Linked DNA regions of Homo sapiens: all the other regions are linked to region 1. The links come from fine-mapping of genetic effects on gene expression. A gene starts in region 1. Each other region holds a variant in brackets. All regions are shown on one strand. Distances are between the middles of the regions.

Region 1 (8,110 bases):
ACTGAGACTCTACATCAAAAAAAGAACAAAGAGCAAGATACGAAAAAGTCCTAAAAGATAATTTAAAAGATGTTCATAAAAACGAACACCTTTAACAGTATCCAAGAAAATCCAAATGAAAAAAAATAAGATATTGTCTGTCATTTAAAGACTCAAGATAGTGTAAAAAAGAATGTGAGAAAAAATAATCCTCCTACGTTGGCCTTTTTTGGAGGGAGACTTGACCATGCTATTAATATTTTTTTAATTCTTTTTTTTTTTGAGACAGTCTCAACCTAGTCCCCCAGGTTGCAGTGCAATGGCGCGATCTCGGCTCACTGCAACCTCCACCTGCCGGGTTCAAGAGATTCTCTTGCCTTGGCCTCCTGAGTAGCAGGGATTACAGGTACCAGCCACCACGCCCAGCTAATTTTTGTGCTTTTAGTAGATACTGGGTTTCACCATGTTGGCCAGGCTGGTCTCAAACTTCTGACCTCAGGTGATCCGCCCGCCTCGGCCTCCCAAAGTGCTAGGATTACAGGCGTAAGCCACCTCGCCGGACCAATACTAGAAATTTTAACATGCATATTCCTTACTCAACAGTTCTATTTCTGGAAGGATAACCTAAAGAAAAAAAATCACACATGTGCTTTAAGTTGTAGGAACAGGATTTTTCGGAGCATAACTGATTTAAGAAAATTTTAAATGTGTTCATCAATGTGCAAACAGTTAAACAAGTTATGGTACACACAACAGCATACAATACAGTTGTTTTATTTTTATGTTTTTTTTTTTTTTTTTTTAGAGACAGTCTCACTCTAGCACCCAGGGCTCACTGCGGCCTTCATCTACCATGCTCAAGGGATTCTCCCACCTAGGGCTACGGGCACATACCATCCCACCGGGCTAACGTTTTTTCAATGATTTTTTGTAGAGACAGGGTCTTGCTACTTAGCCAGGTTTGTCTCAAACTCCTGGCCTCAGGGAATCGGATTCCTCCCACCTCAGCCTCCCAAAGTGCTGGGATTACACGCATGAGGCACCAAGCCCAGCCATAATACAGTTGTTTTAAATAAATAGTTGACTTAGATATGACAAAATTTCTAAGTGAAAAATCAAATCACAGAACACTGAAGAGAGTTTCATCCTACACGGAGATGGGATACATGCACACACACAGACACGCTAAACAGACACACACGTAAACTGTTGAGATTCTCTCTGAAGAGGGGCATGTCAGAAGTCACAACAAGAATATATGGCTGGGTACAGTGGCTCATGTCTGTAATCCCAGCACTTTGGGAGGCTAAGGCGGAACTGTTGGAAGCCAGGAGTTCAAGACCTGCCTGGGCAACACAGCAAGACCCCACCTAATTTTTTTTTTTTTTTTGAGTCTCGCTCTGTTGCCCAGGCTGAAGTGCAGTGGCGCGATCTGGGCTCACTGCAAGATCTGCCTCCCGGGTTTACGCCATTCTTCTGCCTCAGCCTCCCAAGTAGCTGGGACTACAGGTGCCCGCCGCTACGACCGGCTAATTTTTTGTTATTTTTTTTAGTAGAGGCGGGGTTTCACCGTGTTAGCCAGGATAGTCTCCATCTCCTGACCTCGTGATCCGCCCGCCTCGGCCTCCCAAAGTGCTGGGATTACAGGCGTGAGCCACTGCGCCTGGCCTAATTTTTTTTAATGGAAAAAAAAAATAATATGAATGGATCACTAAAAGTTGTGGGTTTTTTTTTTTTTTAATGATTGTGAAAAAAGTTTTCTCATACTCACTTTTCCCCTCCCACCTGCACTCTTCCAATTGCGCTCTTCATGTTGCAGCCACTGGATTTTTGGCAACCACAAATCTGATCCCTGTTCTAAAATCTTTAATGGCCCTGGTCCTAGATGCAGCTCCTCCTACTTGCCTGACCCATCTGTCAGCCTACTCCCCTCTGTTTGCTCTGCTCTTGTACTCTTGCTGCTCGGCCGGAGAGTCTTTTTAATTCTGGACCATTTTTCATTAGCTGTTCCACCTTTCTGGATTGCTCTTTTTCCAGTTGACCTCTCTTCCACCCGCTCCCATTTCACTGGACTAACTTCAGACTTATAGTTGAAATGTCTTATTCTCAGAAAAGCAATCTCAGACTTGTGAGTCTAAATTCGACATCTCTTTCAGTACTCTTAGCCTTTTCTTTATAACAAAGAAATTGTAATTAAATATCTGTTAATTATTATCTTTTTTACTGACTACTTCCCCCACTCACACACAAGGACAAAGACTTCGTCTGGCTTGTTCACTACTTTGGCCCAACAGCTGGCTTAACCCGCATCTCGCCTGACACACTAGAATGACACAGTGGAATTTTTGGATGGTAGGTTTATGTGGCTTCCAAAAAACAGTAGTTTCTACTCTAGTTCCTAACTAGAAGGATTTCCTTTAGAATCATAAAATGCAAATTTAAGCAATCCTATCAGAAGTTGGTTAAAAAAAGTACCCAAAACCCAAAAGTTAGTCATGAAATATGTATACTCTTACATGACTGGTGGCCACAATATGGTTGGTTAATTGCTTTTTGATAAAGCAATATAACATACAGCAAATGCCATTTAAGGTAACACTATATTTTGTCCCAGTATTCCCAATAAAGAAAATGCAAGCGAGTAATTCAACAGCAGTTACGCATATCGTTTTCGAATAATGTTAACCTATTTTCTAAAGCCTGCACAGCATATTACATGCACAAATAATCCAACAAGGTTAACTAGAGCTCAGCAACGGGTTATGTTAGAAACTGAGTTAATGCAGTTGTGGGTTACATTACAAATGTACACGGTTATGGGAATTTTCCCCGTAATTCTTTAAAAACTTTTAATATTAGTCTAAAATATTGCCAAACGTTTTAAGAGTTGGGTCTCGCTCTTAGGTAGAATTCGAGTAACCACAGACACAATTAACATTTACACACCAAAGAACCCATCATTAGCACGACAACCGTCCCGGGTGGGGGCGGGGCGGGACCTTCAGACCTCGTCTTTCATGGGAACACACCTGCCTCTCCTTTCCCAAGAGACTGAAGTTTTTCTCAAATACAGGTTAGCTCGAAAAGTCCACCAAGACAGTGACACAAACTCAGTTCGTTTTTCCCCTTCCCTTGCGACTTTTGTCTCTCCCGCTGGACGGCAGCCCAGCGGACCAGCGAGGGGTACCCGCGGCTCGGGGAGCGCGTCCGCTCGGCAAACATTAACCCGGCTGCCCCGGGCCCTCCGCCCCGGCCCGTCGCGCGGTATCGACCGAAACTCGGCGGCCCTGCCTCATTGGCCGCCGCCGCCCCTCCCTCCGGCGGGATTAATGCCCTGCCGGCCCGACGAGAGAGGGGCCGGCCGCCCTAGGGTCTGGGTGCGGCCCCCGCCCGCCTCCCCGGGGACAAGGCCGCTACCGCAGGCGCGGGCGAGGAAGGGTCCACTCGGCTAGGAGCGCAGCGGACTGTACTGCGGCGCCGCCGCCGGGCCTCGCGCTTACCTGAGCTGGGGACGGCGCAGCCCCGGCGACCAGAGCGGGGAAGAGCCGAGCAAGGCTGAGAAAGGGGCGGCTCCTCGGTAGACGCCGAGAAATGGCGCCCACAACGAGCCCACCGGCTCTAATCCCCGGAGGACCCCGACCTCCCGCCCGTCCACCCCTTAAAGCTCCCTCCCAGCTCCGCCCCCAGGGCGGAGCGCTCCGCTCTTAAACGGGCGATGACACCGCCCCGGAAATTGGCCGGCGCGGCGACTGGAGAGAAACCGGCGAGGCCGGGCCCGGCCGGGCTGGAACTAGCGCCAGCAGCCGGGCGTCCGCGGCTGGTTTAAAGGGGCGCTGCCGAAACCCAGTTCCCGCTGCGGCCCTCCGCCCGCGGAGGAGGCGCCCGTCCGCAGACAGACCCCAGTTAGTCCTATCACGAAGGAGGCTGGTGGAGCTGGCTGCTAGATTCATTCATCCATTCGTTCAAGAGATTAAATCCTTCGCAAATACTTATTGAGAGCCTGTCACGTATTTCCTCCCTTTTTCTCCTTTGTAGGGATTAAAATACATTTAAATCTCTGCTGTTAAAGTGACTTTCACTCTACTGGGGAAACAGTAAACAAATAGGTGTCACAAGGTGATTAAGTGTAAATGAGGAAAAATAAAACTGGGAAAGAGAAATAAAAGATTACTGCTTAGCAGAGTGTGGTCAGGAGGGTACTCTAACAAGGTGACATTCAGTCCGTTCATTCTACAGGTAATTGATTGAAGTGCCTACTTACTGTGAGTTCTGTGTTCTAGACACGAGATACGACAGACAACCAAGACAGACAAAAATCCTTCCCGGAGTTTACGTTATAGCAGGAATATAAACGAGACATAAAATAAACGAGATAAATTAGTGAAATTAAATACTGTCAGACATTGGTAAATGCTAAAAAGAAAAGTACAAGTAGGGAATAACCACAGGCAGTGAGGGTTTGCGATTTTACATAGCAGGTCACAATAAGAAGGTGGCATTTGGCTGGGCGCGGTGGCTCACTCCTGTAATCCCAACACTTTGGGAGGCCGAGGCGGGCGGATCACGAGGTCAGGAGATCGAGACCAGCCTGGCCAACACTGTGAAACTCCGTCTCCACTAAAAATACAAAAATTAGCTGAGCCTGGTGGCGTCCGACTGTAGTCCCAGCTACTCAGGAGGCTGAGGCAGGGGAATCGCTCGAACCCGGGAGGCGGAAGTTGCAGTGAGCCCAGATCACGCCACTGCACTCCAGCCTGGCGACAAAGCCAGACTCAGTCTCAAAAAAAAAAAAAAAGGTAGCATTTGAATGAAGACCTAGAGGAGGTGTGGGAGGAACCCTGTGGCCATCTGGGGAGAACCGAAGGGAACAGCAAGGGCAAAAGGCCCTGCAAGGGGACAGGTCTGTCTTTTCAAGGAAGTCCAGTGTGGCTAGAAGTGAGGAAGCAAGAGGAAGAGGAGGTGACAGTCAGAGAGGAAAGGGGTAAGATGTAGGGCCTTGTGGGCCCTGGCTAGAGCTCTGAGAGAGGTGGGGGAGCCACTGGAAGGTGTTACCTTGAGGACCCTCTGCTTGCTGAAATGAAAAGAGACAAATACTCATTGAGCTTCTTCTCGGGATTTGGCACTGCCCACTCCTCCACCACCCCAAAACGTAGTAGACAGGCTTGGCAGCTCATCTCTGCCCCATGTGGTGTTGGCTGGGCAGCTCAACAGGTGCTGGAGCTGCCAAGGTGGTTTCACTGGTCTGTGTGGCATCTCCGCTGGGGTGGCTGCAAAGAACAGCTGAGTTCTGCCTGGGCTACTCTCTTGCAGATCCGCTGGTGTGGCAAAACAGTGAAAACAGAAGCTCTGAGGCCTATGAAGGGCTATGCCCAGCAGTCACGGAGCGTCCCTTCTGCTGCCTGTTAATGGTTTAAGCAAATCACAGAGGCCGCCCAGTTTCAAGGAGATGAAAGAGACTCTACCTCTTTTTTTTTCTTTAAATATTATTAAAATAGAGAAATTTTCCTTCTCCACCTTTTAAAAACATCTTTATTGAGATATAATGCACCCACTTAAAGTGTACACTTCCATGGCTTTGGGTATTTTCACAGAGTTGTAGAACCACAAACCACAATCTAATTGTGGAATATTTTCATCACTCTTCATGAGAGGAGCAGCATGGGTGTTCAGGGATGGGAGGAATTGTTGCTGGTCATCTTGCATCTTTATCTCAACAAAAAAACGAAATGATATGGCAGGGGGAAGCAGCAATGGTATAGATGAAACAAGAATGGGCCATAAACTGAGGCTGGGTGATGGGGACGTTAAACTATTCTATCTAAAATTTTTCATAATAAAGTCCTTTAGACCGAATGTGGTGGCTCATGCCTGTAATCCCAGCACTTTGGGAGGCCGAGGCAGGAGGATCACTTGAGGTCAGGAGTTCGAGACCAGCCTGACCAACATGGTAAAACCCCGTCTCTACTAAAAATACAAAAATTAACTGGGTGTGATGGCACATGCTTGTAATCCCAGCTACTAGGGAGGCTGAGGCAGGAGAATCTTTTGAACTCAGGAGGTGGAGGTTGCAGTGAGCTGAGATTGCACCATTGCACTCCAGCCTGGACGACAGAGACTCTGTCTGAAAAAAAAAAAAAGAGTATTTAAAAAAATACCACCTGGACACCTGTAATCCCAGCATTTTGGAAGGCCAAGGCTCAAGAGTTCTAGCTCAGGAATTCGAGATTGGCCTGAGCAACATGGTGAAAACCGTCCCAGCTACTCAGGAGGCTGAGGCAGGAGAATCGCGTGAATTCAGGAGGCGGAGGTTTCAGTGAGCTGCTTTCTCTGCACTGCACTCCAGCCTGGGCAATGCGAGTGAAACTCTGTCTAAAAACAAAACAAAACAAAAAACAACAAACAAACCCACCTGGGCCAGGTACCCCGAAAAGCATTCCTTCTTCCCAGGGGTCTGATTAGCCAGTTGGAAAACTGCAGGGTCTTCAGTGCCATCCCCTCAGCCTGTCCAGACTGTCTCTTTCCATGTTTACCTGATGTTTACTCATTTGAAAAGTTCTGGTTTATCTGATTACAGATCAGAAATGGAAGTGAATTCTGTCAATACTTATAAACATATCTTATTCTCCTAAATTGTTGAAAAGCATACCAGTTTTGAAAAACAGTGTCCTCTTCATCCATCCTGCTCAATCTTTTTTTCTATCTCCTATCAAAGATGGAACTGGGGCTGGGCACGGTGGCTCATGCCTGTAATCCCAGCACTTTGGGAGGCCGAGGCGGGTAGATCACCTGAGGTCGGGAGTTCGAGACCAGCCTGACCAATAAGGTGAAACCCTATCTCTTCTAAAAATACAAAAATTAGCCAGGCGTGCCAGTGTGTGCCTGTAGTCCCAGCTACTCGGGAGGCTGAAGCAGGAGAATCACTTGAACCCAGGAGGCGGAGGTTGCAATGAGCTGAGATGGCGCCACTGCACTCCAGGCTGAGTGACAGACCAAGACTCCATCTCCAGAAAAAAAAAAGGTGGAACTGAAGGAGGCTGTGGATGAGGTTAGAGAAATCTGTTGAGAAAGATGGTTATAGGCTAAAGGAAATATGAAGACTTGAGGAAAGGAGGATGAAACTTAAGGGCCCAAGTCATAGAAAGTTGTTCATGTTCTAATTATGTGAAATTATTCCTAATAACAAATCATTGTCTCCCCAGATCCTCTCTTCTAGACATAGGGACCCTCTGTAACACACGTTTCGTGATAAATTCACCAGAAAATTGACTTCTGCCAGAGACAGAGAAAGCCCTCTCCTTAAATATAGCTGTATCAAGGAAAAATGCATTTGGCTGGAAGTAATGGGAAATTTTAACTGTTATTTGAAAAATAAGGAGTTTATTTTTCTCACATAAGTAATCTAGAGGTAGGCAGCTATTAGTACTGGTTCTGCTCCTCAACAATGCTGTAAGGATCCTAAACCCCTTTACCATTTCTGCTTTGCCACCCTTAGCATGTTGACCTTGGTTTTCATGCTTCTAGCATACTGGCCACAGGACGGATGCTTATCTCCAGCTTTCTTGAGTTTCAGGAATAAAAGGGAAGGGGAAAAAGACCTTTACCTGAAGCCTTGTCTTTTAATTCAGAGAAGAAAGTACCAGCACCCCCTGTCTCCGGCCAGAACTACACTACCTGCCCTAACTCAGACCAATTAAAGGCCATAGGGAAAGAGAATACCATGACTGGCTTAGACCAGTCAGGATTCACCCTTGGGAGCTGGAGACCAAGGGCTCTCCTTAACTTTCTGAACAAATCCAAATTCTATTAGCCTCAAAGAGAGAATGTTGCTGAGACAAATAACTGTGGGTAGCTATAGAAGGTGCCTACCAGCCTGGCACGGCGGCTCACGCCTGTAATCCCAGCACTTTGGGAGGCCGAGGTGGGTGGATCACGAGGTCAGGAGATTGAGACCAGCCTGGCCAACATGGTGAAACCCCGTCTCTACTAAAAAAATACAAAAATTAGCTGGGCGTGGTAGTGGGCGCCTGTAATCCCAGCTACTTGGTAGGCTGAGGTAGGAGAATCGATTGAACACCAGAGGTGGAGGTGCAGTGAGCCGAGATCGCGCCACTGCACTCCAGCCTGGCAACAG
Region 2 (8,110 bases), 140 kb before region 1:
ACATTTAAAAATAAGATCTTAAAATCAATAACCTAACTTTACACCTTAAGGAACTAGAAAAACAAAGAACTTAAGAAAAACTTAAATCCAAAAGTTAGTCCACTGAAAGATCAACAAGATTGACAAATATTTAGCTAGACTTATGAGGAAGAAAAGATTCAACTAATATCAGAAATTAAAAAGGGTGAAACCTCTCAGTAAAAAACAAATAAAAAGGATTTGAAGAAAATACTATGAGCAATTTACTCCAGTAAATTAAATCACCTAGGTGAAATGCAAACATTCCTGAAAACAAATTACCAAAACTGACTTAAGACGAAATGGAAAATCTGAATAGACTTACAACAAGTAAAGAGATTGAATCAGTAATCAAAAACTTTCCAACAAAGAAAAGCCCAGGACCATAGCTTCACTGGTGAATTCTACCAAATATTTAAAGAATTAACAATAATCCTTCTCAATCTCTTCCAAAACACAGCAGAAGAAGGAACACTTCCTAAATCATGCTATGAGGCCAACACTATTGCCCTGTCACCAAAGTCAAATAAAGACATTGTAAGAAAATTACAAACCAGCCAGGCATGGTGGCTCACAGCTATAATCCCCAGCAATTTGGGAGGCTGAGGTAGAAGTACTGCTTAAGGCCAGGAGTTGGAGAAACCTACAGACCAATATCCCTGATGAATATATATACAAAAGTCCTAAAAAAAATGTTATCAAACTGCATCGAGAAGAATATTAAAAAGCTTATATAACATGACCAAGTAGGATTTGTTCTAGAAGTTCACAAGAGTGGTTCAACATCAGAAAACCACACCATATTAACAGAAAGAAGGAAAAAATCTCAATTGATGAGCATCTCAACTGATGCAGAAAAAGCATATAACAAAAATGCAACACTTTTTCATGATAAAAACAAACAGAATAGAATGGAATTTCCACAGTATGGTAAAGGGCATATATGAAAAACATACACACAACACTCAATGGTGAAAGACTGAAAGCTTTCCCTTTATCCCTTTCAGGAATAAAATAAGAATGTCAGTTTTTGTCTCTTCTGTTCAACACTGTACTGGAAGTTCTAGCCAAAGCAATCAGGTAAGAAAAAGAAATAAAAACTTCCCAACTGGAAATAAGGAAGTAAAACTATCGCTATTCACAGATGCCATAATCATGTATATAGAAAATCTTATAGAATGCAGAAAAAACCAGCTGGGTGTGGTGGCTCACACTTGTCATCTCAGCACTTTGGGAGGCCGAGGCGGGCCGATTACCTGAGATCAGGAGTTCAAGATTAGCCTGGCCAACATGGTAAAACCCCATCTCTACTAAAAATACAAAAATTAGCTGGGCATGGTGGCAGGTGCCTGTAATCCCAGCTACTCAGGAGGGTGAGGCAGGAGAATCGCTTGAACCCAGGAGGCAGAGGCTGCAGTGAACCAAAATCGCGCCATTGCATTCCAGCCTGGGTGACAAGAGCAAGACTCCGTCTTTAAAAAAAAAAAAAAAAAAAAAAGGGCCAGACGCAGTGGCTCCTGCCTGTAATCCCAGCACTTTGGGAGGCCGAGGTGGGTGGATCATGAGGTCAGTGGTGTTTTGTAGTTTTCAGTGTACAAGTCTTTTGCCTCCTTGGTTAAATTGTTTCCTAGGTTTTTAAATCTTTTATGCTGTTGTAACATAGTTGTTAATTTTGTTTTCAAACTGTTCACTGCTAGTGTATAGAAATACAACTGATTTTTGTGTATTTATCTTGTATTCTGCAACTGTGCTGAGTTTATTAGATCTAATAGGTTTTTTTCTGCATTATTATTATTATTATTATTTTTTGAGATGGAGTCTCGCTCCGTCGCCCAGGCTGGAGTGCAGTGGCGTGATCTCGGCTCACTGCAAGCTCCGCCTCCCAGGTTCACGCCATTCTCCTGCCTTAGCCTCCCGAGTAGCTGGGACTACAGGCACCCGGCTAATTTTTTGTATTTTGAGTAGAGACAGGGTTTCACTGTGTTAGCCAGGGTGGTCTCGAACTCCTGGGCTCAAGCAATACTCCCACATCAGCCTGGATTACAGGCATAAGCCACCATGCCCAGCTGAAAAAATTAACTGAAAATAGACAGAAGATCTAAATATGTTTCCTATACTGGAAGTTCTAGCCAAAGCTATGCAACTGTTAATCATTATGATCTTGAATTTCACAATGGTTTCTTATATAAAACACTAAAAGCACAGACAACCTAAGAAAAGTAGATAAATTAGACTTCGTCAAAACAAAGAATTTTTATGCATCAAAAGGCTGATCACTAAGAAAGTGAAAAGACAATCCACAGAATGGGAAAAAATATTTTCAAATCATGTATTCGGTAAGAGTCTAGTATTAAGAATTGATATTCAATCAAGGACTCCTACAATTCAACAATAAAGTAAACCCAATTTAAAAATGGGTAATCTGTCATGGGATTAGAAAAAAAAAAGAAATAAAAATAAATGGGGTGGGCAGGCACAGTAGGTCACACCTGTAATCCCAACACTTTTTAGGGCCAAGGTAAGAGGATTGCCTGAGGCTAGGAGCTTGAGACCAGTCTGAGCAACTTAGTGAGACCCCATCTCTAAAAAAATAAAATAAAATAAACTTTTTTTTTTTAAATTAGCTGGGCAGGGTGGTGTGTGCCTGTAATCCTAGCTACTCAGAGGGCTGAGGCAGGAGGATCACTTAAGCCCAGGAGTTCAAGGTTACAGTGAGCTATGATTGTGCCACTGCATTCCAGCCTGGGTGATTGAGCAATAATGTCTCTAAAAAATAAGAAAATAAAATAAAAAATGAGCAAAGGACTTGAATAGACATTTATCCAAAGAAGTTACACGAATGGCCAACAAACACATGAAAAAATCCCCAACATTCTTAATCATTAGAGAAATGCAAATCAAAAGTACACTGAGGCTGGGTGTGGTGGCTCCCACCTGTAATTTCAGCACTTTGGAAGGCTGGGATGGGAGGCTCGCTTGAGCTCAGGAGTTCGAAGACCAGCCTGGGCAACACAGTGACACCTTGTCTCTCCCAGAAATGAAAAAAAACTTAGCCGAGCATGGTGGCATGTGCCTGTAGTCCCTGCTACTAAGGAAGCTCAGGTGGGAGGATCGTTTGAGCCTAAGTTTGAGGCTGCAATGAGTTGTGCTTGTGCCACTGCACTCCAACCTGGGTGACAGAGCAAGACCCTGTCTCAAAAAAAAAAAAAAAAAAAAGTACAGTGAAATACCATGAGAGTGTAAAGAAATAAAAACCCTCACTCATTACTGGGAGAAATAGAAAATGGTGCAGTGGTTGTAGAAAACAGTT[T/G]GGCAGTTCCTTAAAAGGTTAAAAGCAGAATTACCGTATGACTCCGGAATTCTACTCTAGATGTGTAACTGAAAAACAGGTGTTCAAACACAAAATTGTACATGACTATTCATAGCTGCAATATTCCTAACAGTCAAAAGGTGGAAACAATCTAAATGTCTATCAACAGATGAATAAACAAACTGTGGTATATCCATACAATGAAATATTATACAGCCATAAAAGGAAATAAAGTCCTGATACATAATAGTACAGTATGGATGACCCTGGAAACATTATGCTAAGTGAAAGAAGCCAGACACAAAAGACCTCATATTACAGAGTATCATTTATATGAAATGTCCAGATAGGTAAATCTATAGAGACAGAAAGTAGAAAAGTACTTCCTCAGGGTTAGGGGAAAGGCAGTGCAGGGTAGATGGGGTTACAGTTAAAGAGCAGGGGATTTCTTTTTGAGGTGACGAAAATATTCTGAAATTTGTTACTGATGGTGGTTGTATGTACTAAATACAGAATGTACTAAATGTACAAAAATGTACCAAAAACTATTGAATTGCACACTTTAAATGGATGAATTGTGTGGTATTTGAATCAAATTTATCAATGAAGCTGTTACTACAAAAATAAATGATCTGAATAGACATTTCTCCAAATAGACATACACGAAAGGATGTTCAACATCATTAGTCCTTAGGTAAATGCAAATCAAACCACAATGAGATGAGACACACTTTATACTCACTAGGATGAGTATAATAAACAAGGAGAATAATAAGCACTGTCAATGACACGGAGAAATTGGAATCCTCATACATTGCTGGTAAGAATGAAAAATGTTACGGCCATTTTGGAAGACATTTGGCAGTTCTTAAGAAAGTTAAATATAGAGTTACCATATGACTGAGGAGAAATGGTGTTACTCCTAGGTATATACTAAGGAGAACTGAAAGTATATTTACAAAAAAAAATTTGTATGCAAATATTCACGTCTAGCTTTGTTCACAATAGCTAAAGAGTGGAAACAATTCAAATGTCCATCAACTGATATATGGATAAATAAATGTTGTATATCTATATAATGAAATATTATTTAGCCATAAGGAGGGACAAAGTACCAACATATGCTACAATATGGACAAATCTGGAAAATATTACGTTGAATGTAAGAAGCCAGACACAAAAGGACACGTATAATTCCATTGACATAAACTGTCCAGAGTAGGTAAATCCACAGAGACAAAGTAGATTAGTGGTTGCCAGGTGCTGGGCAAGAAGCAGAATATGGAGTGACTGCTAATGGGTAAAGTGTTTGCAGACTTTAGGTAAGGTAGAAACCTTCATACTCACTATAATACTCATCCTAGTGAGTATGAAGACCTTAGGTAAGGTAGAATGAGGATGAGTATATATGAGAACTAGGATGAGTATTATAGTGAGTATGAAGGTTTCTACCTTACCTAAGGTCTGGAAAGGGTAAGGAGTGAGGGTAAGGAGTTTCTAGACCTATGGTGTTTCTAGAACATTCTCAAACAATGTTCTAGAATTTATTATAGTGGTAATGGTTGCACAATTTTGTAAAATTACTGAATTGTGTATTTTTAAAGAGTGAATTTTGTGGTATGTGAATTATGTCAGTAAAAAAAAGAAAGAAAAATGATCTAAATCTATTATGGTAAAATGTTAAGATGTGACAAAGCTTGATATTTGGTATACAGGTATACTATATACAGTATATTATATACTTCTCCATAGTGTCTCTGTGCCTAAAATACTGCATTTTCAAAAAGGAGGTACAGTAAAACAGAACAGTGTTGTATAGCATGGGGAAAATAGATTAAAAGAGAAGGAAAAGATCTAGAAATACACCCATGTTTATATAAGAACCTAGTATATTTCAAAGGATGCATTTGAAATCCTAGGGGAAAAATAGATTCTTCAAAATATGAACAGGCATTTAGAAAAATAAATCTGCATGTATGCTCTAGGCTCTTTCCAGCTTCAAGAGTTCAATGAAACTTCTGATGAACATTGGGCAGTCCTGTTCCCATTACCCTTCTCCTGGCAAACAAAAAATTTTATTCTGAAAGACTTCAATAATAACAATAGTACTAAAAATGTTATTACTAACAGTGGTTATCAGAATTTTCTTTCCTTTTTTTTTTTTTTTTTTTTTTGAGACAGAGTTTCGCTCTGTTGCCCACGCTGGAGTGCAGTGGCACGATCACGGCTCACTGCAACCTCTGCCTCCTGGGTTCAAGCAATTCTCCTGTCTTGGCCTCCCCAGTAGCTGGGATTACAGGCGTGCGCCACCATGCCCAGCTAATTTTCGTATTTTTAGTAGAGACGGGTTTCACCATGTTGGCTAGGCTGGTCTTGAATTCATGACCTCAGGCGATCCAAAGTGCTGGGACTACAGGCGTGAGCCACCACGGCCTGGCCCCTTAGAAAAAAAACCAGGGTCTCACTCTGTCACTCAGAATGAAGCGCAGTGGTGCGATCATAGCTCACTGCAGCCTCAAACTCCTGGGCTCACGAGATTGTCCCTCTTCAGTCTTTTGAGGAGCTAGGCCTACAGCGTGGATCACCATGCTCGGCTAATTTTTTATTTTTAATTGTAGAGACAGGATCTCACTATCTTGCCCAGGCTAGTCTCAAACTGCTGGCCTCAAGTGATCCTCCTGCCTTGACCTCTGAAAGTGCTGGGATTACAGGTCTGAGACACCGTGCCTGGCAATTAGCATTAGTTACAAGGTCAAGTTGTAATTCTAGCTTTACCCTGATCACCAATTAGTACTTTTGCTGAGTACTAACTATTATAATATAAAGTGCTATACACTATGCATACTATGTGTGGTGCCATGTTGACTGCGGTATCTGGAACTGAATATGATTAATCACAATCATATTCCTTGACTGAATCAGTTTTGAACAGTAAAAAAAGAAACAGCATTTATTTGCTCAACATTTTTTAACACTAAGCACAGAACATTAGATTCACAGTGGTGAAGAAAGTCAATGGCCATAAAGCATGGAATAAAAGCCTAACTAACAAGACAAATAAATGCCAAAATACTCATTAAAGGGAGCAAGGGCAGAAGAGACTTGGAGGGAGCAGCAAAGAAAGTTAACTACATTACTGTGAGAACCCATGGCAAGTAAGTTGATAAGAACAAGGCCATTGTGATAACAGGATGACATGAAAGTTTACTGTAAGAGAATAATACACACTCCTTACCAGGTGACTGAAAAGATCACACATATCTTTAAGACGGTTTCTGCTCTGTTGGTTCGAATCAGTTGAAGATAAATGGGAATGTTGGGAGACTAATTAGGAACATCTTCAAATAATATAAAACTAGGTACTAAGTGGTCTGTAATGGATACAATAGAGTGAATTCAAGCTATCTTTCAGACAGACATCCTGAAACCATGTGGTGACAGACTGAGAAGAAAAAAAAGACAAAGATAGATAAGAACATCAATTTAATTCAGTCTACCCAGAACTGTACCTGTTTGTGGCAGCATCCTGAACATTGGCATTTTTATGACTTAATAAGCTATCTTCTTTTGTAACCTAAGAAAATGAAATATTAAAAAAAGTAAATCTTTATTGAGGATACTAAAGTAACAAGAAATTTACATTTCTTTCTGGTAACAACAGAAATATCAGTTTGCTTTAATTAAAATAAGAGGTAATCATACCTTATCTATGGAAATACCAGCAGTGTACCTAGTACAATCTTACCCCATACCTAAATTAATAATCAAAGATTCCTTTTTTTATTTGGTATACAAATTCACACAATCTTACTAGATGGTTCTCAATAATGCACCCATTTTTTATTTTTTTTTTGAGATTGAGTCTCACTCTGTCCCCCAGGCTGGAGTGCAGTGGTACAATCTCAGCTCACTGCAACCTCTGCCTCCCAGGTTCAAGTGATTCTCCTGCCTCAGCCTCCCGAGTAGCTGGGATTACAGGTATGTGCCACCACACCTGGCTAATTTTTGTATTTTTAGTAGAGACATGGTTTCACCATGTAGGTCAGTCAATCTTGAACTCTCCTGATGTCAAGTAATCCACCTGCCTGGGCCTCCCAAGGTGGTGGGATTACAGGCATGAGGCACCGCACCTGGCATCAATAATGCACCAATTTTTTTTAAAGTACAGTTTAATAAATTTTTTTAAAGGCATACAAGTGTTTAGCCAACATCATGTAACATTTCTACTATCTCCCCCACTCCCCGCCTCAATATTCCCTTGAGGCTTCCCACATAATCCCATGAAAAAACCCTTATTTGAGGTAAATGATGATCTATACTTTACACAGTTTCATATAATTGGAATCACAGTACCTATCCTTTCCATCTGCTTCTTTAGAGCAGCATGGAGATGTCTTTGAGATTCACTCATGTTGTTGTACAAATCACTAATTTATTCCTTTTTATTCAGACATTTCATTGTATAGATACATCACAATCATCTGTTTTTAGCTATTTCATATAAAGCTGCTAGGAACATTCATGTACTAACATCTGTGTTAACCTGAGTTTTGATTTCTCTTGGGCAAATATCTAAGAATGTAATTGCGGGTTAGATGATATGTGTATGTCTGATGCATTGCCAAACTCTTTTAAAGTGTTTATACAATTTTATGTTCTTACCAGCAATGTATGTGCACCACAGGAGCTCTATCATCACCAGCACAGGGATGGTCAGTGTTTAATTTTAGCTATTTCAGTGGATGTGGCTTTCATCATTAATTATGATGTTGTAGATTTTGT
Region 3 (8,110 bases), 44 kb before region 1:
TTCAGCATAATGCCCTCTGAAATCCATCCAAGTTGGTGTGTATCAATAGTTTTTTCTTTTTATTGCTGAGTAGTATTACATGGTATGATTGTGCCACTGTTTAATCATTCACTTACTGTAGGACACTGTGGTTGTTTCAAGTTTTTTGCTACTACAAATAAAGATGCTATGAACAATCATGCTCAGGTTTTTGTGTGGAAGTAAGTCTTCATCTCTCTGGGATAAATGGTCAGGCATACAACTGATTAGTCATATGGTTTAAGTATATGTTTAGTTTTAAAAGAAACTGCCAGATTATCTTCCAGAGTAGCGATATCACTTTACAATCCCAACAACAATGTATAAGAGATCCCATTTCTGCACATTCTCACCAAAATTTGGAGTTGTCACCATGTTGTACTTTAGCTGTTTTGATAGATGTGTAGTGAAAACATCTCACTGAGGTCTTAATTGGCACTTCCCTGATGGCTAGTCTAACATCTTTTCATGAATTTGTCATCTGTATATCCTCTCAGGTGAAATGTCTCTTCATGTCTTTTGTTCATTTTTGAATTAGACTGTTTGCTTTCTAATTGTTGAGCTGAGGAGCTTGTTTTGTTTTGTTTTTGGTTGAGACACGGTTTCGCTCTGTCGCCCAGGTTTGAGGTGCAGTGGCTGTCACACTCACAGCAGCCTCCACCTCCCAGGCTTAAGCAATCCTCCTGCCCAGCCTCCCAAGTAGCCACAGCAGCAGACTTTTTTTGTTTTTTTTTGTAGAGACAAGGTCTCACTATGTTGTCCAGGCTAGTCTTGAACTCCTGAGCTCAAGTGATCCTCTTGCCTTGGCCTCCCAAAGTGATGAGATTAGAGGCGTGAGCCACTGCGCCCAGCTAGGCATTGTGTATATATGCTAGACACGAGTTCCTGGTCAGATGTGTGATATACGAATACTTTCTCCCAGTCTGTAGCTTAGCTTCTCGTTCTATTAACAGAGTCTTTCCCAAAGCAAAAGTTTTTAATTTTTTATGAAGTCCATTTTATCTTTTTTTTAAAAATCATCCTTTTGGTATCATGTTTACTAGTAACTCTTCTCTAAACTCTAGGTCCCACAGATTTTCTCCTGTTTATTTGTCTCTAAGTTTCATAGTTTTATATTTTATATTCAGGCTCATTATCCATTTTGAGTTAATTTTTGTATAGGTATAAGGTTTAGGTCAAGGTTTTTCTGTCTTACAGATATCCAGCTGCTCCAGCACTTTTTTTAGTTTGTTTGTTTTTCCTTCTTCCACAGGTTCTAATCCAGCACCATTATTAAGACTATTCTTCCACTGAATTACTTTGGCACCTTTGACAAAAATCAGAGGTCATATTTGTGTATGGCTATTTCTTTCCATTGATCTACATGTCTGTCGCTTTGCCAATACCACAAAGTCTTGATTATGAAAGCTATATAGTAAGTCTTGAAATTGGGTAGCATGATTCCTCCCATTTTATTCCCCTTTTTTAAAATTACTTTAGCCATTCTAGTAGTCCTCTGTCTTTCCATATAAATTTTAGAATAATCTTACCTATATCTACAAAAGATCTTACTGGAATTTTGAGAAAAACTGCATTAAACCTGTATATCAATTTGGGGAGAACTGGTATCTTTGTTGAGTCTTCCATTCAATGTAGAATGTCTTTCCATTTACTTTTATCTTCTTTGATTTCTCCATCAGCCACGCTATTTTTAAAAATATGTTTAACAACTTTTTAAAAATAGACAATTTAGCCTTGAAATCTGGATTTCAGCTTTTCTTGAAATACCTGAAGATCCAGCAATGCTGGTACAACAAACCTATTTAACAGCAAATGCCTGGAGCTAGGTGGTAGTTGCCATATACTGTCTTTTGCAGGTAAATGTAAAATGCTTCCCACTTCACCACATCCCCTCCACCAATCCTTTTTGATCCTCTACAGTCTGCTGGATATCAGCTATGATTTATCATCACGCTATCTATATTTCTCTGTCTCTATCCCTATCAAAAATGAGAAAAGGGCTGGGCACAGTGGCCCACACCTGTAATCCCAACACCTTAGAGGGCCAAGGCAAGAGGATCACTTGAGGCCAGGAGTTCCAGAACAGCCTGGGCAGTCTCTACAAAATTATTATTTTTTAAATTAGCCAGGCATGGTGGTGCACACCTGTAGTCCTACCTACTTGGGAGGCTGAGGTGGGTGGATCACTTGAGCCCAGGGGATCAAGGCTACAGTGAGCTCTGATCATGCCACTGCACTCCAGCCTGGGCAGACACAGACAGCAAAACCCTGCTTCTTTTATTTAAAAATAAAATAAAATGAAGGAAAATACAAAACATAACAAGTATGTAGCAAGATTTTTTTTTAAATGAGAGAAACCATATTTCTTCTTGGAGTAAATAACCATGCAAAATCTTTAATGTGCACACCAACCTGCTTCCCTTCTTTTGCTCTCCTGCCTGGTCCATGTAAACATGTGATTTTAAGACTGAAAATTGTTCCTTCAAAATGTATCAAATGTGTTCTCCAGGAAATCGGTACAGTTAACTCTCCAATTATTTTGCAAAGTCTTATTGTACCAACCTAAAACCACTCAATATCAAAATTAAAAATATATTACTTCTACTGTGGAAAGTCCTGTATACAAGAAACTACCCAAAATTGTCACTTTTTTAACCACTAATATTGGCAGTGCTCCTGTCATGGGTGGCTTTGCTACATGTACTATTTTTATGACAGCAAAAAAAAAGTGTTTCCCTAAGCCTTCATCAAGAAAGAATATATTACCATAAAAATATCTGTTTAGTTATACAATGAGATTTAATAACAAAGTTGTACCAACAGCAAAAAAAAAAAAAGAGATTATAAATGTTTGACGGCGTAACTGTCTTAAAGATTTAAACAGAAAAACTCACAGATTTATACCATTATCCATCTTCCCTTAAGCTATAGGTTATTCATTTGCTAAAGAAGGGTTACTAAATTGGAGAATTCATAGTTGGGCTTGGGGGATATCTGAATTACTATGTACAGACAAAACGTTATGTGTATGTGCATTTTTCTAGGGTAAGTCCACAGATTTCATAACTCTAAGTTTAAGATCATCACTGGACTATATAAAAGGATATTAAATTACATTTAGATTTTAAAATAGACGATGGGGTAGTATTCTGCAGTCCACTAAAACAACGATGACCATATATTCTGGTTTACCAGAATAATACTGGCAGCTTATGCCTACTATCCCAATCCCTCATTCATTAAGTACCCCTTTTACTCTCTAAAGTGGCCTTTAGAGAAAACACAGCCAGACGTGGTAGCTCACACTTGTAATCCCAGCACTTTGCGAGGCTGAAGAGGATCACTTGCATCCAGGAGATCAAGACCAGTCTGGGCAACATGGTGAGCCCCCATCTCTACAAAAAAATAAAGAATTAGCCAGGCGTGGTGGGTGCCTATAGCCCCCACTACTCAGGAGGCTGACATGGGAGGATCCCTTGAGCCTGGGAGGTTGAGGCCGCAGTGAGCTGTGATGGCGTCACTACACTCCAGCCTGGGTGACAAAGTGAGACCCTGTCTCAAAATGGAAAGAAAAGAAAATCTGAATACACCTGTAACAAGTAAAGGAATGAGTCAATAATCAAAAACTTCTCACAAACAAAAGCCCAGAACCAGATGGTTTCAATGACAAATTCTACCAAATGTTGAAAGAATTAACACTAATCCTTCACAAGATTTTCCAAAAAAATACAAGAGGGGGGATGGTTTTCCCACCTCGTCTACAAGACCAGCATTACACCCAAACCAGAAAAAAAAAAAAAGTCACAAGAAAACTACAGACTAATATCCTTTATGAATATAGTACCAAAATAATCATCAAATACTGGCAAACCAATGGTCAGGTGTGGTGGCTCACACCTGTAATCCCAACACTTTGGGAGGCTGAGGCAAAAGGATCGCTTGCATACAGGAGTTCAAGACCAGCCTGGACAACATGGCGAAATCCCATCTCTACTAAAAATACAAAAACTAGCCGGGCACAGTGGTGCATGCCTGTCATCCCAGCTCCTTGGGAGGCTGAGGCAGGAGAATCGCTTGAACCAGGAGGCAGATGTTGCAGTGAGCTGAGATCACGCCACTGCACTCCAACCTGGGCAACAAAGCGAGACTCCATCTCAAAAAAAAAAAAGACTATAAACCATGACTAAGTGGGATTTATCCCAAAAATTCAAGGTTGGTTCAACATTAAAAAAAAAAAATCAACATAACATACCATATAAACAGATTTTTTAAAAACTTCACATCATCCTCTCAATAAATGCAGAAAAAGCAATTGACAAAACCCAACGACCTTTCATTATGAAAGCATCAACGAACTAGGAATAGAAAAGACCTTCCCTCAATCTGATTAAGGGCATCTATAAAATTCCCACACCATACTTGATGGTAGAAGACTGAACATTTTCCCCACTAAGATCAGGAATATGTCAAGGGTGTCCACTCCCACTGCTTCTATTCAACATTTTATTGAAGGTTCTAGCCAGGGCACTGAGGAAAGAAAAGGAAAGAAAAAAACACAAGACATCCAGATTCTAAAGGAAGACATAAAACCATCTTTTTGCAGATGACATGATCTTATACATAAAAACACATTAAAACTAATAAACACGTTCAGCAAGACTACAGGATACAAAATAAATACACAAAAATCAGTTGCAGTTCTATATGCTAACAATGAACAATCCAAAAATGAAATTATAAAAACAATTCCATTTAAAATAGTACCAAAGGAATAAAATGCTTAGGAATAAATTTAACCAAGGAAGTGAGACTTCTATAAACTTAAACTATAAAACATTGTTTTAAAAAATTAAAAACCTAGGGAGGCTGAGGCAGGAGAATGGCGTGAACCCGGGAGGCAGAGGTTCCAGTGAGCCGAGATCACACCACTGCACTCCAGCCTGGTTGACAGAGCAAGACTCTGTCTCAAAAAAAAAAAAAAAAAAAAAAAAA[T/AT]TAAAAACCTAATACAGAGAAAGACATTCCATGTTCATGGATCAGAAGACTACATTGTTAAAATGGCAATATTCCCCAAATTGATATACAGATTCAGTGCAATCCCTACCAAAATTCCAACTGCCTTTTTTGCATAAATGGATAAGCTGACCCTAAGATTTATACGGAAATGCAAGGGACTCAGAATAACCAAAAGAATACTGAAAAAAGAAGACAGCTGGAGAACTCACACTTCCCAATTTTAAGACTTACTACAAAGTTACCATAATCAAGACACTGTGGTACTGGCATAAGGATCAACATAAAGATCAATGGAACAGGCCGGGCATGGTGGCTCACGCCTATAATTCCAGCACTTTGGGAGGCCGAGGCAGGCGGATTGCCTGAGGTCGAGTTTGGGACCAGCCTGCCAACATGAACAAACCCCATCTCTGCTAAAGGTGCAAAATTAGCTGGGCATGGTGGTGCATGCCTGTAGTCCCAGCTGCTTGGGAGGCTGAGGCAGGAGAATCACTTGGACCCGGGAGGCAGAGGTCGTGGTGGGCCAAGTTCGCATGATTGCACTCCAGCCTGGGCAACAAAAGTGAAACTCCGTCTCAAAAAAAAAAAAAAAAAAGTGTATATATGTATGTATCAATGGAACAGAAGAGGGAATCCAGAAATAAACCCACATATCTATAGTCTATAGTAAATAGATTTCCAACAAGCATGCAACAAGACCCTTCAAGTCATTTTAACAAGTGGTGTTAGGATCACTGGATATTCACATGCTAAAGAATGAAGGTGGACCCCAACTTCATAGCATATACAAAAATTAACTCTAAATGAATCAGATGCCTGTTGTCCCAGGTACTTCGGAGGCTGAGGCAGGAGAACTGCTCGAACCGGGAGGCGGAGTTGCAGTGAGCCGAAATTGCACCACTGCACTCCAGCCTGGTGACTGGAGTGAGAAGAGTGAGACTCTTTCTCAAAAAAAAAAAAAACTTTTAGAAGAAAACGTGTAAATCTTTATGACCTCAGAATAGGCAATCGTTTGATAGATATAACACAAACAGCATAAGCAACCAAAGTAGGTAAACTGGATTTCATCACAATGTAAAACTTTTGTCAAAGGACACTATCAAGAAAGTGAAAAGTAGGGGAAAAAAGTTTGCAGATGTATCTGACTAGGGCTGAGTACCCAGAAAATACAAAGAACTCTTACAACTCAACAGCAGAAAAGCAAATAACACACTTTAAAAAATCAGGCAAAGGATCTGAATAGACATTTCTCCAAAGAAGATACACAAACGGCAAACAAGCACATGAAAAGATGCTCAACATCATTAGTCATTAGGGAAATGCAAATCGAAACCACAATGAGACACCATTTCATACCAACTAGGATGGCTAAACAAAAAGAAGGGGAAATCACAAGTTGGCAAGGATGTGGAGAAACAGGAATCCTCATACACTGCTGGTAGGGAGTGTGGAATGGTGCCATCACTGGAAAAGTTTGGCACAAGCAATCCTCCTACCTGAGCCTCCCAAGTAGCTGGAACTACAGGCACACACCACCGCACCTGGCTAATTTTTGTATATTGTAGAGACAAGTGTTTTGCCAAGTTGCCCAGGCTGGTCTCGAACTCCTGGGCTCAAGCAATCCACCCATCTCAGCCTCCCCAAGTGTTTGGATTACAGACCACCATGCCCAGCCTTCAGAGCAGCATTATTCATAACAGCCAAATAGTAGAAATACTCCAAATGTCCATCAATGGATGAGTAAATAAAATGTGATATATTCATACAATAGAATATTATTCAGCAATAAAAAGGAATCAACCACTAAGATATGCTACAACACGGATGAACCATGAAAACATTATGCTAAGTACATTTCCAGATTCCAAAGGCCACCTATTACATGATTCCATTCAAATGAAATTTTCAAAATAGGCAATCCATAGACAGCGTTTGCCAGATGCTGTGGGGAGGGGTAAATGGGAAATGACTGGTAACGTGTAAGAGGGTTTCTTTGGGGGTGATGAAAATGTTCTGGAATTAGTGATGATGGCTGAACAATTCTAAATATACTGAAAACTCTGAATTGTACAATCTAAAATGGTGAACTTTATGGTATGTAAATTGTCTTTTTTTTAAGTGGCCTACTTTACAGAAAAAATGACATCGTCATGCTAACTAAAACCAACTCCTTCTTTTACTTAAGCATGCCTTCTCTCTTCTCTTTAAGCTTCCTACTCCAAACCAAATCTCTGAGGTAATAACTCTTCAATACAACTGTCAAAGGAGTGCTTTACGTTCCACTGTGTATTTGTAAGGTGACAAGTTTCACAATCCTTTCCTTTTTCCAAATAATTCAGTCCATCCAAGATCAAAGAAACAGCAAAAAATAAAAATAAAAAATAATAACTCAGTCCAGAAATAATTAGGTTGTCTGAGCAAGACCAGCATGTACACAGGGAGAGGCTAGAGACTGGTTCCACACATGCTGAGTGATCAATATAGTAAATCTACTGGTGATAATCATAGCCTGGTTTCTATAGAAGAGAACTACAAATATGGAAAGAGAAAAAAAACTACAAGAAGCCCTGTAGTGTTAGACTGGAATTTCAATTATTTATGGGTGTTGAAGTTATGGTATTCATGGTATTCGAGAGAGAGATATGGAGAAATAAACATAAACACATATTCCCTAAATCTGGTCACAAGACTCATTGGAGAACTGGCTAATTCCAGGGCTGGAGTAGGGCACTGCAAGATGAACATGGCATACCTTCATAAGCCAGAAAGTAAGGCAGAGCTCAAAGAATGAAGGGGCCATGTCAAATGAACATAGAAGCCATCTTGAAGCAGCTCCCATTGACCATACGTGGGAAAATTTGAGCAACAAATTAAATGATAGTAACAGATATAACCCATTGAATTAAAACAGGAATCTATTAGTTCATAAATAAATAGAAAGTTTGATGAGGAAAAGTCTCAACATAACTGCCCACAAAATAGTTAATGACAAAGGGAAAAAAGAATAACTTCATAGTGGTGAGGCCTAGCAGACACCATCTTAATCAAGGGATCAAATTTAGTATCACTAGTAATGGGA
Region 4 (8,110 bases), 97 kb before region 1:
GTAAATTAGTGTTTGCCAGGGGCTAGTAGGAAGGAATAATTGATAGTAACTGCTAATAGGAAAGAGGTTTCTTTTGGGGATAAAAATGTTACGGAATTAAATAGTGGTGATGGTTGTACACCTTTGTGAATAAACTAAACCCACTGAATTATACACTTAAATTTTTTTAAACGTAGTTACACATAATATTATTAATCTGTGGCTTTGGTAATGTCTTAGTTCATATCCATCTCTCAAGAATGTATAAAGAAATATGTAAAGACATTCTTTCTTCTACCTATTTCCTTACTTTTCATGGACACTTGCCTGTGTAAACTGAAGCAGTTTTCCTTGTCTCCTTCCATAATTTGGAGTAATTTATTGTTAAAGTTGTGAATGATAGCTAAGAAAAGCAATGTTACCCTCACTCCCATTTTCTGAAAGCCTGTTTATCTAGTTAGGTTCTTGCATGTGTGCGTGCACTTACTAATATATACATGATTTGGTTGCTTTCACAAAAATGGGAACAAACCTCAGACACTTAAGTTTTAAACTCAACAGTGTCACTGATATCCTCTAGTAAAAGTACATGAAAACTGACCTGATTCTTTAACAATTACATAGAATGGAGGCAGCATATTTTTATAATACAATCCAGTCTTCCACCAATTGGAATTCATTCTTCACACTGCCCCCTAAAATAGAATTATTACATTCCTTTTTACTCTCTACAATCTGGACCCCAACAACCTTTACAGAGTTATGGAGGCAGTACAGTAGCCAAGGCTGGGTTCTAGGACTAAGCTGTCTTGAGTTTGAAGCCCAGCCTCATTGTTCTGTGCCTTCATTTCTTCACTAGCCTGAATACCTTATAGATCCTCATAAGGATTAAATGAGGATGCTTTGCTAGAGTGAATACTTACTGCTGTACCTCCAGAACAATGTCTGGCACAGAAGCACTCAAGTATTAGCTATTATTATCACGATACCTTCCCATAAATTCTATACTCTTTACTCAAACCTGATTCATCATTCCTGGACTACACCTTGCACTTAGCTACTTTAGAATTTTCTTTTCCTATAGGTCCCTGGGCCCGTAATGATTTATCCATTCAAAGCTCCTTTCTGTTTCACTGGAAACCTGATGCAAATGCCAAGAAGCCTTCTTAACTTCAACCACTTCTACTCTTCTTGCTTGCTGGATTTAGCACTTTATCAGTTATTTGTAAAACTGTTTATCTCCACAGTTTGAGTATAAATTTCTTGAAGCCAAGAACAGTATTTTGACTATTTCTGCATCACCAGATGTGCCAAGACATGCTTGGTATTCATTGATTCAATCAAATAATATATATGGAGTGTCTGAGGATACAGAAGGAAACAAAATAAATGCTCTCCCTTAACGGAGCGTACATTCTGTTGAAAAACGGACACTCTGACTTACCCAATAGGGTTATGTCCTGAGAAACCCATCGTAAGTCAAAAATGCACTTAATACTCTCATAAACCCATCATAAAGTTGAAAAATCCTAAGAATCATCATAAGGGACTATCTGTATAGAGAGGACAAACAAACACATACTAAGATGAAAGGAGTGAGAAAAAATAAAGCAGGGTAAGGCAGACAGGAAATAAAAAGAAGACTGGGCAGGGGGCGGGGAACATGATTATTTCAGAGTGGTCAGGAAAGGCTTCTCCAATAAGAAACCTGATGGTGCCGGAATGAACCATAAGAGATTGAAGGGAGGAATACTCAGGAAGCAGTAAAAGTACAAAGATCCTGAGAGAACATGCTTGGTATGTTTGAGCAAGTATAAGAAGATGAGTCTTTGGATGTAAGCAAGGTCAGGATTGATAGAAGATAAAGGGAGGAAAAAGCATGTTTCTATCAATGTGAGGATCTGAGGTTTTACTCCGAGACAAGGACGCTGGCAGGTGTAAGCAGAGAAATGACATGATCTGCTGTTATCACTACAGCTGCTGAAAGGAGTACCAGACAGTAGAGGAGCAAGGGCAATGGCAAGGAGGCCAGGTAAGAGGGCAGGGCTGACAACAAATGGAAACAGGATGGGAGCAGTAAAGATGGTAACAAGCAGTAGACCTGGATACATTTTGAAGACAGAACTGACAGAATTTACTGATTCTGAAAGAAATCTGGAGTGTGAGACAAAGAGGAGTCAAGATGACTATAAGGTGCTCTGGTCTAAGTCAGTGCTTCTCAAACTTCAGTATGCATCAGAATCTCCAGGAGGGCATGTGAAACAGATTGCTGGACCTCACTTCCAGTGTTTCTGATTCAGCAGGTCTAAAGTAGAGCCCAAGACACGCTTAGCAACACGAAAAAGAGAACTGCCACTTACGAAGCTACAAAAACCACAAAGATGGGAAAAACTGCAGGGGTCAGGAGATATATTTGTCCAATTTTGAACATATTAAATTCGGGATGCCCAATATCACTTCTGCAGTATTTTCTCCCAAATCCGTGGCCTCAAACTAATCATGTGAAAATACCACACAAACCCAAATCAAGAAATATTCCACAAGGCATCTGGCCAACCATGAAAAACATGGAATGGCTGTCACAGGCTGAAGGGGACTAAATGTAACATGGGATCTCGGGTCAGATCCTGGAAAATTTGTGGAAAGACTAGTGAAACCTGAGTAAGGTCCAGTTTAGTTTGTGGTATTGTACCAATGTTAATTTCTTAGGTTTTGTGAAACAAACAAAATCTAAGAAATTAACATTGGTACAAGTTATGGAATGTATGTGGAGTGTTAACAACAGGGGGCCAGGAGCGGTGGCTCACACCTGTAATCCCAGCACTTTGGGAGGCCAAGGCGGGCAGATCAGGATCATTTGAGGCCAGGGGTTTGAGACCAGCCTGGCCAACATGGTGAAGCCCCGTTTCTACTAAAAAATACAAAAATTAGCTGGGCATGGTGGCGCACTCCTGTAGTCCCAGCTACTCCGGAAGCTGAGGCTGGAGAATTGCTGAAACCCAGGAGGCGGAGGCTGCAGTAAGCAGAGATTGCATCATTGCACTCCAGCCTCGGCAAGAGTGAGACTTGGTCTCAAAAAAAAAAAAAAAAAAATAGGGGAAGGTAGGGCAGGAGGGTGTGGGAATTTCTGTACTATCCCTGAAACTGTTCTGTAAGCTGAACATTACCTCAAAATAAAGAATATTTAAAATGAGATGCCTATATTAGATGCCTAAGTAGAGATGTCAGATAGGCAGTTGGATATGTAAGTGTGGAAATTTAAAAGTTCAGGGTGATGATATAAACTGAGAAATTGCCAGTGTGTATAGATAGCATTTAAAACCATAATGCTGGATGATATTACAAAGGGAATAAATTGTTACGGGAAAGTTCCTTAAACAGAGTTTAGGGGTTGGAGAGATAAGTAGGCATTAGCAAAGGGGATTAAAAACAATGGCTTGTTAGAAGACAATGGCGTGTTAGAAGGGAGGTTAGAAGACAATAAAAAATAGTGACATCTCTAAGCTAGGTGATGACAATTTCGTGAAGTGAGCGATTTCTGAATGCTAATTAAGCTGACTAAAAGATGGACTGTGGGATTAGAAATATGCAGGTCATTTGTGATCTAATAAAGCTATTTTGGTGGAGTAGTAGCATAACACTATTAACTCAAGGCAGAGCCTTTATATGGATTAAAACAATGCTCCTCTGAAAAGACACATCCAATTTGCAAAATTGTCAAATACACTAATCTTTTCGGAACAAGACACTTAGTGCCATCTGCTGGAAAATCACTGTCATAAATTATGTGAACATCATTCTCCTAAATGTGGCACTCTTGTACAGTATGCAATCTGCACAATCATACCCAGTCCTCTGTGTCAGGGACAATGTTTGATTAGAATGGGTTCAAGAGATTAAGAGAAAGAAGAGATAGCAAGTATAGACAATTCTTACAAAGCAAACAGTTTTGCTACCTGTGAAACAAAAAAATGGAGGAATTGCCAAAAGAGGTAGATTCAAGGGAGTTCTTTTTTAAATGATGTGAGCTATCTTAGGAAGTTTTTGTTCTGATGAGAATACTTCAGTAGAAAGGGAAAACCGATGCAGTAGAACAAAAC[G/A]GAGGATTGCTCAAATGATGGTCTTGAGTAACTTGAGGTGAGGATCTAAATGACTAGTGAGGACCTGGGCCTTAGAGTATGGATGGTTCACCTAGAGTAACAGCAGGGAAAGCAAGGAACAAATTCCCAAATGCAGGTAAGTTCACTGATAAAATGGTGGGAGTACAGAGAAGACCTCTTCTGATTGCTTATGTTTTCAATAAAGTAGGAAGCAAGGTCATCAGCTGAGAACAGAGTAGGAAGGGAGGAAGTGGTTTGTAAGAGGAGGAAGTGGTTTGTAAGAGGAGAAAGTCAGCCCAGCATTGTAGGAGAACAAATAGATTAAGGAAATGTAATATGGTATCAGGGAGCATTGAAGGCTCACTTGAGCTTAGTGGTCAAAATTTAAAGACCACTCAAAAATTTTGTGTGTATTTCACATTCACCAGCTATATGCAGAGTATACAGAGTTGGATTTAACCAGATGCATACAACAGGAAGAGGGTCAAGAAATTCAAGGGTATGTGGAAAGGCATAATGATAAGTGGCTGTGTATAAAGAAGACCCAATGAGGTACTCTGGTAGGTGTCCAACAAATAAGATGAATCAAAAAAAGAGATATCAATACAAGACTCCTGAAATCTTTCACTGCAACAAATGCCCCAGGCCTCCTTACCAAATGTGGATGACTCAGACTGATATTCAATGCCTTTACTACTCAAATATTTTAATGTTATTATTCCAACATGATTGTGAAATTTCAAAGTGATAACCTGGATATTCCAGAGAACCCAATCTTCCCAGGTCTTTCTAATTATCCAAGAGTTTTGCTGATGATGTCCCCAGAAAGATTTAATGCGAGTTATTAAACACAGGTCTTATCTCCAAACTTCTACAGTTTATAATTAAATAATTCCTGAAGCTATTGGTGGGGCTACAAATACAGTTTTGTAATAAGAAACTCTTCTCTGTTAATGGGTATAAATTCCAGTGGTATTTTGCATCCTCTAATGTTTTCCACAATTTATCTGAATACTCCTCTAACTAGTTCCACAAGGTAAATCAAGCCAGCAATCATCTTCCTATTATCATAACCTTTTATTTTTCATTTTTTAACTCTACCCCTAATAATTTAAAATATTTTGCATTTATTATTATCAATGATTAGTCATGTCTGTAGATGCGAGCTTTATTAAGGAATCTGCAATTTCTTACAAATCTTAATCATACACTGGATCTCAATTCTTTATTAAAAGTAGTTAAAAACAAAACAAATAAAACTTCCTTCAACAACAAAAAATGAGCTACAGCTGTCAAACCTGTTTTTATGAGGAGGTACATTATTACACCATTAAGGAAGTCTTCAGTCACAATCCTTGGAAAACACTGTTCTCTGAATCAGATATCTCTTTTCCATGCCAATATAAACACAATGCTGGCCAGCTGTCAGGAACAAAATGTAAAATGTTCACTCAAGCACCACCACCTAGAACTGAGGCCACAGCTTGTAACACAGAAGCTTAGGTAATTATCTAATAATAATAAAATTGTGACAACAATTCCTTCAGGAAGAACAGGAACAATTGTTTGTCTACTTCAGTATAAAAATAACAATAAAAAAGCCAAAGTTATTTTCCTTTCACCAATTTCTTTTAAAATTTTCTCTTCTCTTCACTCATTCTTTTAACAAAGACACTATGTATTTCCCTTCTCACCAGCCCAAAGTGCTCAAAGCAACTAAAGTGCATTACTACATTAGCAATTGTCAGGAATTGATGAAAGAAATGAAGTTCCTTGACATATTTTACACTGAAAGTGACATGCTTCATGTCCTAATTTCTACACCACCAAGGTTAACGTTAATGGAACAAGATTCCATTCTCACAATGTTTTCATGTGACTAAAGTAAAAAATTGTATGAACAGAGGATGAGAAATGTTTATGTTCTGCAAAAGGGGGTTAGAGGAAGACTACCATATCTAAATCCACGATTCATAGTATCTAGAAAGGATCTGACAAATCACATTTTATACATGGGGGTAGGGGAAGAGGCTGGCATGGAGAAGGAAGGAGAGAAAGTTGTTTCCCCACCGCAGAATTATCTCCAAATCCTAGCCCTTATGTAAAAGCATCTCACATACAAGCATTCACAACAATCCTGGAAAGCAAGATATAACTGATGATGTGGTATAACACATATTAAAATTCAGGAAGGAAGAATGTGGTGGGAAAGAGAGAAAACGTTATTGAGACAAGATGATTTTGTTTTAGCAAATCCATAAGTCCTAATACCAATCATAAAAAATAGTAACTGTAATATTTTCAAACCAATATTCAAAGACTAACACTAAAATAACAGCCTCTCAAAGCAATGAACCATGGTTTAGAAATGAAGAGTGTGCCCTGACCAAAGACAGTACCATGGCTCAAACAACTATAGCTCCCACCACTGGGGCACGATGAACTAATAGGGGACAACCACCTTCAAACTTGTTCAGTTTACATTAGTAAATAAAAAGATCCAACCTGGCGATGTACCTTTTGAACAGTGAACAACAATGAAAAGAAATTTTTAAAAAAAGATCCAACCAAGTGTTATAAATAACATTTTTTGGCCAACACTTTAAATAAACTCCCCTCCAAAAAAAAAAAGATGATTTGAATTATACTGGTATTACAATATTAGTGTTTGTATACTAGGTGCTTTTCAAAACAGACATATTATACACATAGTAGGACAAATAAAATTTATTTTTCTCTGTAAATTCATTTAAAAGTATGTTATCTATGATTATCCTATCAAGGTCAGAAATGTTAGATCTTACTCCAAGATAGGTAAACGCCTTTGAAACGCAACAAAAAGAGACGATGATCTTATGAGCTCATTTATGTTCATGCGTGAAAGTGTGAAGGTCACTAGCTTTGCTGTGTTTCTACAAGTTTCCTTGACTGTAAAAACAGTCAAAATGTAACCAACCTAATTCAAGATGTTAAATTAATTAAGTTAAATAAAATTAGCCAAAGCACTGTAAATTAAATGACATAATACTTAAGTTCTGTACTGATGACACCCTTTGATCAAAAGGATGGTGACCCAGTAAGGTGCTTCTGGAGGTTATTACTTCTCTAATTCCGAATTTATCATCACTGACTCTTTAGGCATAATAAAATGTAGAGTGTAAATAGGTTGGTGACAATTTATTTAATTTAGGTTGAGCTACTTATAAATACCTGAGAGCTCTGGAAACAACATATATATCCATCTTGCAAATATCAGTAAAAAGAACAAGTATTTGCAATATTTGATATGAAATTCTGAAGCATATGGGAACTTCTATAAAATAGACAAGTTTAATTTTACTACCATCCAGCCTTAGCCCTTTACTTTCCTCACCCCTATCGCTGCCTCCATCCCTAACACCCCTCCAATCCAGTTTCTCTCATCAGGAATTCGCAAATCAATTCTTTACAACAAGGTTTTCAACAAAAGAAAAATCATGAGGTGAATCTTCCCTTAAATGTAACAGTACTGATTAACTCAAATTATAAATACAGAAATGGCCACTTTCAATATGAACTGAAGATCTTACTCTTCAATTACAATCTGCTAAGATATATATGGGGCATTATATGAGCATGTCCTGCAGATTAAGAATAATTTTAAAGTGAGTGAAGTCAAATCTTACAACTTCATTGTGCCTCTTTGGTTTTTACTATAGAAACAGTACTTTTTTTAATGATATACATACCCATGAAACCTTTTCTTGAATGGCACAACCCAGAGCTTCTGTGCTTAAAATGTTATAATCCAAATTCCTCTCTTTTAAGAAAAAAAATCAGCCATGACAATACTTAGCAATTATCATCTGAGCTATGTAAAGTCTAAAACAACTATAAGGGCCATACATTAGTGGCCATTTTTAAGCTTGCTAAACGATGATGGGCTTAAAGAGGTGGGAGCCGGGCTATTTAAGATACAGATCTATTTATATTTAGAGGATGTGCTAAATACTTTGAGTGGCCATCCTCTTACACATAATTATACTAAACTC

Which allele goes with the higher level. Positions count from the first base shown, and alleles are read on the strand shown. Sizes are in standard deviations (SD) of each study's normalised expression. Not every link is listed here.
As copies of T replace AT in region 3, the expression in skeletal muscle of the gene that starts at base 3,613 in region 1 goes up (large effect, 0.81 SD a copy in FUSION).

What was found. PIP is the estimated chance that this variant, and not a neighbour inherited with it, causes the effect.
Region 2: its variant is fine-mapped to the expression of EPB41L5 in whole blood (TOPMed, PIP above 0.99).
Region 3: its variant is fine-mapped to the expression of EPB41L5 in skeletal muscle (FUSION, PIP 0.95).
Region 4: its variant is fine-mapped to the expression of EPB41L5 in whole blood (TOPMed, PIP 0.98).

Annotation. Positions count from the first base shown.
Region 1 is chr2:120,008,580-120,016,689 of GRCh38, reverse strand. It overlaps EPB41L5 (erythrocyte membrane protein band 4.1 like 5), which reads right to left and starts at 3,613. Exons shown (of 25, transcript NM_020909.4): 1 at 3,480-3,613. It overlaps LOC107985817 (a long non-coding RNA gene), which reads right to left. Exons shown (of 4, transcript XR_001739205.2): 2 at 6,389-6,543; 3 at 5,032-5,050; 4 at 3,986-4,297. RefSeq lists a silencer at 3,268-3,437.
Region 2 is chr2:120,145,017-120,153,126 of GRCh38, reverse strand. EPB41L5 (erythrocyte membrane protein band 4.1 like 5) reads right to left here. Exons shown (of 25, transcript NM_020909.4): 20 at 6,838-6,902. Among named protein-coding and RNA genes, the nearest start is that of TMEM185B, 74 kb to the left of the region's middle. The variant T/G (reference allele first, on the strand shown) is at 3,329.
Region 3 is chr2:120,052,382-120,060,491 of GRCh38, reverse strand. The region is part of intron 3 of EPB41L5 (erythrocyte membrane protein band 4.1 like 5); the gene reads right to left. Among named protein-coding and RNA genes, the nearest start is that of EPB41L5, 43 kb to the right of the region's middle. The variant T/AT (reference allele first, on the strand shown) is at 5,011.
Region 4 is chr2:120,105,598-120,113,707 of GRCh38, reverse strand. The region is part of intron 16 of EPB41L5 (erythrocyte membrane protein band 4.1 like 5); the gene reads right to left. Among named protein-coding and RNA genes, the nearest start is that of EPB41L5, 97 kb to the right of the region's middle. The variant G/A (reference allele first, on the strand shown) is at 4,080.